Homo sapiens: one gene and its partner. The protein of the gene in region 1 purifies or fractionates together with the protein of each later gene. This does not show direct contact. Each region holds a gene or a part of one and is shown in the gene's direction. Other genes may lie near its edges.

Evidence for each region. The genes of interacting proteins can lie anywhere in the genome.
Region 2: the proteins of ENPP6 (region 1) and NDUFB3 purify together in Homo sapiens (affinity purification with mass spectrometry; 3 studies listed by BioGRID and IntAct, with this or other methods). This does not show direct contact.

What each region holds. Positions count from the first base shown.
Region 1 is NC_000004.12:184,092,323-184,095,977, reverse strand, and holds part of ENPP6 (glycerophosphocholine cholinephosphodiesterase ENPP6 precursor), read left to right. Parts: intron 1-2,742; exon of another isoform or gene 2,743-3,655. UniProt on the Homo sapiens protein: Choline-specific glycerophosphodiesterase that hydrolyzes glycerophosphocholine (GPC) and lysophosphatidylcholine (LPC) and contributes to supplying choline to the cells.
Region 2 is NC_000002.12:201,074,898-201,078,552, forward strand, and holds part of NDUFB3 (NADH dehydrogenase [ubiquinone] 1 beta subcomplex subunit 3), read left to right. Parts: intron 1-3,655. UniProt on the Homo sapiens protein: Accessory subunit of the mitochondrial membrane respiratory chain NADH dehydrogenase (Complex I), that is believed not to be involved in catalysis. Complex I functions in the transfer of electrons from NADH to the respiratory chain.

The sequences.
Region 1 (3,655 bases):
CCTTTAACCAGTGATAGTTATCAGGTGCTCCCTGTCAGCCGAGCCCCAGGTCAGATATGCAGAGCCCCAAAGCTAAAGGAATTAGGAATGGAGCACCCCGAGGGTAACTACTGGATTACATTGGATACATTCCAGGGCCATGGTCTTTCTTTGTGAGAACATTAGTCAGCAAGGCTTTCATTCAAAAGCATGGCACCCTCCATTCCCAGATGAGGGAAATAGGATCATGAATGCAAAGCAGTGGTCTGGGAAGGACTATATACAAGTGAGAGTCTCAGGAATATATATATCTATATATATATATAGATATATTTTTTTTTTTTGAGACAGTTTCTTGTCACCCAGTCTGGAGTGCAATGGTGCCATCTCAGCTCACTGCAACCTCCACCTCCTGGGTTCAAACAATTCTCTTGCCTTAGCCACCTCAATAGCTGGGATTCCTGGAGCCCACCACCACGCCTGGCTAATTTTTATATTTTTCTTAGAGATGGGGTTTCACCATATTGGCCAGGCTGGTCTCAAACTCCTGACCTCAGGTGATCTGCCTGTCTCAGCCTCCCAAAGTGCTGGAATTTCAGACGTGAGCCACCACGCCCAGCCGAGTCTCAGGAATATTTTAAAGCAGAACCAAATCTAGCCCCAAACCCCAAATTTTAAACAAGGTCCCCAAAGCTGCATTAGCTTAAAGTTAAAATTTGGTGAAGAGATTCTGTCCATTAACAGAGGCCTCCATCACAGGTTCCTGTAACACTAAAAGCGCCCAGTCTTTTACAGACAGATAGATGACCCCTGATGAAAATGGACTGCGCTAATTGCAAAATGTTTCCAGGCAGATACAGCGTGGAGAGCCTCCCGCAAACCATCACGTTCTGGCTCCAGTTCTCATGAAAGATTAAACAGCTTTACACACTGGCTGTTTACTGAGAAGAAAATTTAAGAGCAAGGCCTTTAATAGCTATCTGGCTGCACTTTGAGATAAAGGTGCATCCCTCCTGATTAACTGTATGTGCTTCTCCCTTAGGGGGAAAGCTGGGCATCATTGCGGCTGCCCAGATGCAGCCTCAGAAGTCAGTGAGTCTGGTCCAGCAAAGAGAAAGGGAAGTAATTCTGCAGGAGAGCCTCACTCTTGTTAATCCCAGTTTCTAATTTGAACAGTCTAATCTTGCCCTGGAGAACTCCACGTTTGAGATAAGACAGCAGGAGTGGGAGTCAGTGAGCTGCCTGCGAGCTAGCAAGCCCCACTGGGAAGGCAGCCCCAGGTGGCCAGCCACAGTGTAAGCCTGCAGAACCTCCTCTCTGTAAGAGACACACCTCTCATATCCAAAAAAATGTAAACACGCGAGGATAACTTGGACTCTCTGTCCATGTCTGAAATGCCATCTTCAGCTAGTAGAGCCTGTCTGGGTCCTCAGTTGGATCAGGCATTGTTTTGCTCTTCAGGAATTTTCTAAAAGCTTTCTCATTCCAGCCTGGATTATTTCTGCACTGAGCCCAAAGCACTATCCCTGCGCAGCAGGAGGCCACGAACTAGGTGGGATGGGAAAGAAATCTCAATCCTCCTTTATGCTTAAATGCACAGAATTCGATTTCATATTTCCAGTGTAAAAAGATAATATTTTCTAATACTTTTGTCAGAAGAATTTGATCTCAGTTTTTCCTGTGAAGTGTTAAAGAAGAGGATTTTTGTTTTGTTTTGTTTTTTAGAGATGGTCTTTCTCTGTCATCGAGGCTGGAGTGCAGTGGCATGATGGCTTACTTGTAGCCTCCATCTCCTGGGTTCAAGAGATCCTCCTGCCTCAGCCTCCTGAGTAGTTGGGACTACAGGCACACACCACCGCACCTAGCTAATTTTTTATTTTTGCAGAGTTGAGGTCTTGCCATATTGCCCAGGCTGGTCTTGCACTCCTCAGCCTCAAGCCATCCTCCTGCCTCAGCCTCCCAAAGTGCTTGGATTACAGGTGTGAGCCATAGTGCCCAGCCACAAATGGATATTTGAAAGCCTGTGGGACACCTGGGCTTACTCTGGTCCACTGCCTCACATGCCCTCCCACCCACACACAGCAAGGCATGGCCCCATGTGGCAGTAGAATTATCACATCCAGGTCACATGAGAAGAAGATAGAAGAGTTGCTTCCATGCCGCTGGAACAACCATTCCACTGGATTCTCGTGCTGCACTTGATTCCTCGGATAGGGAAGTGTAACTACCATCCTCATCTGATTGTCTGATCTGCCTGAGAGGGGCTGGGATACTGGGGCAGCCCTTTCTTTCTCCTCTCTGGACAGGTTTTACATTATTATTATTATTATTATTATTATTATTATTATTATTATTATTTTGAGACAGAGTCTTGCTCTGTTGCCCAGGCTGGAGTGCAATGGCACGATCTTGGTTCCCTGCAACCTCCGCCTCCTGGATTCAAGCAATTCTCCTGCCTCAGCCTCCTGAGTAGCTGAGATTACAGACACCTGCCACCACACCCAGCTAATTTTTGTAAATTTTGTAGAGACGGGGTTTCACCATGTTGGCCAGGCTGGTCTTGAACTCCTGACTTCATGTGATCTGCCCACCTCGGCCTCCCAAAGTGCTGGGATTACAGGTGTGAGCCACTGTGCCTGGCCAGGTTTTACATTTTTTAAAACTAATTTTTACTCTGAGGAGAAGCTGACCCTTATCCTCCATGCCCCTGAAGAAAAGTAAACCCTCCAGATAATTTAGAAAGTGAATATATTCAAACCACAATTTGTCCTTGTCATAAATATTTATTAATAATAGTAGTGACCATTTACTGGGTATACACAGTGTTCCAGGAACGATGACTTTCTATGCCTATTTCCGGAGGTCACCCAGCTAGTGCATGCTGGGTGCAGGCTGGCGGTAGAGCCCACACACCTCTTTATATTGGATTCAACTTTAATTCTCCAAAGGGAGCAAAACGTGCTATTTGGGCAGTTGCCCTGGATCTAACATACTATGTGGCAGAAGTATCTATATTTAGCTTTTTTCCAATTTATAATTCCAGGATAAATAGAGGAGCAGAATTTGGTGTTGATACCTCTGCAATATATTGCTGTGTGTTGTTGTTTGTTTGCTTTTTAACTAAAGTATTTAGGATTCTTTAGCAAAGCAATTACAAAGATTATTTCTAATATCTTAAAAAACTTGGCTTTACGGCCCCCAAACAACTCATTTCCTTCAAAAGTTGTAGGGGAACTAGAAAGCACAGGCACAGGCCTTTATCAATGGCTTAAATCTCCTCCCTGAATTCAACCTTAATGTAGCATTGGGTATTTTGTTACAAGCTCTGGTTTGGGGCCTAAAAGTGAAGTTGCTTTTGTGTATTACTAAAATCTTACATTCACTCTTTAAATGGACAAGTGCTTTGAATTCTGCCTCTCATCTGCCCGCTGTAGAGAAGAAGAAATCCCTTGATTGAAATCCCTCCAAAGACTTGTGGAGTCACCCTCGGCGTCCCTCACTCACCGTGCTGCGTGTGGCCACCCTACCTGTGTGTTCTTGCGTGACTCTCGAGCTTGGGGCCACTCTGGGCAGAGGCACAGTGGTCTTCTCCATTAGATCGCTCAGAGCCTGCACATGGATCCCTGATTCAGATACCAGTTTGCTCATTTTCCACATGGCTAATGTATTTTATCTG
Region 2 (3,655 bases), on another chromosome or scaffold:
ATGTTATATGAAGAAACTGAAGTTCAGGGAAATTAAGTGATTTGCCTTGGATTTTACTTTTACTAGTGCAAAGTAGGAGAATTTCAAGCTCTTACTTTACAGGTCACGATATCATTGTTTGATTTATGGCTATTTGGAAATAGAAATAAGTTTAAAAAGAAAAATGGGCCAGGTGCCATGGCTCACGCCTGTAGTCCCAATATTTTAGGAGGCCAAGGAGGGAGGAATGCTTGAGGCCAGGAGTTCAACAGCAGCCTGGGCAACATAGGAAGATCCTGTCTGAAAAAAAAAAAAAAAAGAAAAAGAAAAAAGAAAATGAAAGGTTTCCTAGAGAAAGTGTTTTCAACTTTCTGCTCTTTTTGAAAAGTCATTTATATGTTATATTTAGCCGGGCACCGTGGCTCATGCCTGTAATCCCAGCACTTTGGGAGACCCAGGTGGGCGGATCACAAGGTCAGGAGATCGAGACCATCCTAGCTAACACGGTGAAACCCCATCTCTACTACAAAATGCAAAAAATTAGCCAGGCGTGGTGGGGGGTTCCTGTAGTCCCAGCTACTCGGGAGGCTGAGGCAGGAGAATTGCTTGAACCTGGGAGTCACAGGTTGCAGTGAGCCAAGATTGCGCCACTGTACTACAGCCTGGGCGACAGAGCGAGACTCTGTCTCAAAAAAAAAAAAAAAAAAAAAAGGTATATTTAGTAAATTCCTATGAAAAGGATACTTCTGAAATAATTAGGTAGAAGAGAAAATACATTGAATGTATTTAAATAAACTTGTATAGGAGAAATGAGGGTATGTACGCTTTCATGTTTTCTTTCAAAGATTTATCTTTCAAATTACTTGTTTAAGCACAGTAGTATTGTAATTTTGAAATAGTCTTTATACCATGGTAATGTTTCAAGTTTTATTTTCAAAAACTATTCTATCAAAATTCTTGACCCTTTGTTTTATACTCTCTTCCAAATACACTGATACTCAGGTTGATATTCTAGAATTGACATTTGCCAAAATAAGGGTTTGTCTTGTTTTAAGTGTTTTTAAAATGAAGCCTTATTTTAAAAAAGATTTTTTGAAAACATGGTATGCAGAAGCCAAGACATTATCATTCTAAATAAACACTTGTAATGGTCTTCGTTTGTAATAAATGTATTCAGTCTCAAAAGTCAGTCTGAAGTCTGACACCATAATTTTTTTCCTTCATTTTATTGAATCTACCAAGTAATAATGGGTTAAATGTTTCATTCAGAGTTGTGTTGTAATTTTAACTTGTGTTTGAGAGTATCGGTTTTCATTTTCATTTTCATTTAAATGTGAAAATCCTCCTGGGTGTGGCTGTAATCCCACTGTAATCCCAGCATTTTGGGAGGCCTATGCCAGAGGATCAAGGATCACTTGAGGCCAGGAGTTTGAGACCAGCCTGCACAACATAGGGAGGGTCCATCGCTATAAAACATTTAAAAACTAGCCAGGCGTTGTGCACACTCCAGTCCTAGCTACTCAGGAGGCTGAGGCAGGACAATCACTTGAGCCCAGGAGTTTGAGGCTGCAGTGAGCTATGATCCAGAGCAAGACCCTCTATCTTTAAATATATATATATATATATATATATATATAATTAAATGTGAAAATCATCAACATAATGTTTTTTAGTATCTTAACATGTTTACAAATAATAAGTGTTGGTTTTTCACAGTTAGTATGTACAATTTTTTTCTCATATCTTGGAACTACTTATTTTTTGAGAGAGTCTCACTCTGTCGCCCAGGCTGGAGTGCAGTGGCACCATCTTGGCTCACTGTAACCTCTGCCTTCTGGGTTCAAGCGATTCTCATCCCTCAGCCTCCCAATAATGTGTCTTTAATATACACTTTTTAATAATTACCTCTCTCTTCTGAGATGCAATGTAAGAATTCCTACCAGGCCAGGCACAGTGGCTCACGCCTGTAATCCCAGCACTTTGGGAGGCGGAGGCGGGCAGATCACCTGAGGTCAGGAGTTCGAGACCAGCCTGACCAACATGGGGAAACTCCATCTCTACTAAAAATGCAAAATTAGCCGGGCATGGTGGCGCATGCCTGTAATCCCAGCCACTCAGGAGGCTGAGGCAGGAGAATCGCTTGAACCCAGGAGGCGGAGGTTGCAGTGAGCCGAGATTGCACACCATTGCACTCCAGCCTGGGCAAAAAGCAAAACTCCATCTCAAAAACAAAAGAAAAGAAAAGAAATCCTACCTTATTGGGCCTGTTCATAGTTATAAATATGGACATAATGGTAATATTTACTTGATTTTACTTCCGGAAAAGCAGTGATTATAGAATTGCTACTGCTTGCCAAGTAATTAGAAAAATAAAAATGTAAAAAAAAATAAAAGGATTGCTACTGCCAACCTTACACAAATTATAGTATAGTGTTACTAAGCCATACCCCTTAATTTGAATTAGCAATTTAAATGAGGACTGAGCTGGTTTATTTTTATATTATATATTAAAATAACACTAGTAAAACCAAAGTATTTATATAACCATTGAGGACATGTTTTAATTAAGGAAGCAAATTTATTGATTAAAAAGGAGTCCTAAGGTATCTGTTGGCCCAGTTCAGGGATCGGCAAACTGCAGCCTGTGGACCAAATCCAGCCCAGTGCCTGTTTTTGTAAGGTCCATGAGCTAAGAATGGTTTTTACAAATGAACATTTGTAATGACTTTGATGCTAAGGATCACTAACTTTGAGCTCCAGTTAAGTAGAATGTTACCCCCAAAAGGGGAGTTCCATTTTTTTCGTCAGTAGACCTGTATTACAAAAAAATTTGTAGTCAGTTACTTACTACATTTTGAATTTTATCAATAAGGTATTTGCGGTAGTGTGTTTTCTCTTCCTATAAATGTACCTACATAATTGCCTCAATTTTACCTCTTTTACCCACAAAGCCTAAAATATTTACGATCTGCCTCTTTAAAGAAACCTTTCATGTAATCATATGTATTTAAAAGCATTGCATTTTAAAAGAATCATCTAAAGAAAATTTTTAAAACAGGATGTATAACCTTTTTATTATACATATTTATGCATTATGAAAGGATTCAAAAGGAAAACAATATTGCTTAGAAGTTAGGAGCAGGGGGCCGGGTGCGGTGGCTCACACTTGTAATCCCAGCACTTTGGGAGGCTGAGGTGGGTGGATCACGAGGTCAGGAGATTCAGACCATCCTGGCTAACATGGTGAAACCCCGTCTCCACTAAAATTACAAAAAATTAGCCGGGCGTGGTGGCGGGCACCTGTAGTCCCAGCTACTCGCCAGGCTGAGGCAGGAGAATGGCGTGAACCCGGGAGGCGGAGCTTGCAGTGAGCCAAGATTGCACCACTGCACTCCAGCCTGAGCGACAGAGCGAGACGCCGTCTCAAAAAATAAGAAGAAGAAGAAGTTAGGAGCAGGGTTCTAAAACCAAACTGCAAGGTTCTAATCCCAGCTGTACCATTACTATTTTTGTTACCTTTGGAAAGTTACTTAATTGCTTGGAGTCTCATTGTCCTCATCTGTAAAATGGGGATACTCATTATTTAAGTTCAAAGAGTTGTTTTAGAGGTAATGGAGTTAATACACATAAAGCATTTTAGCATATGTTTACTATTTATAAAGAGTTGTTTTAGAGG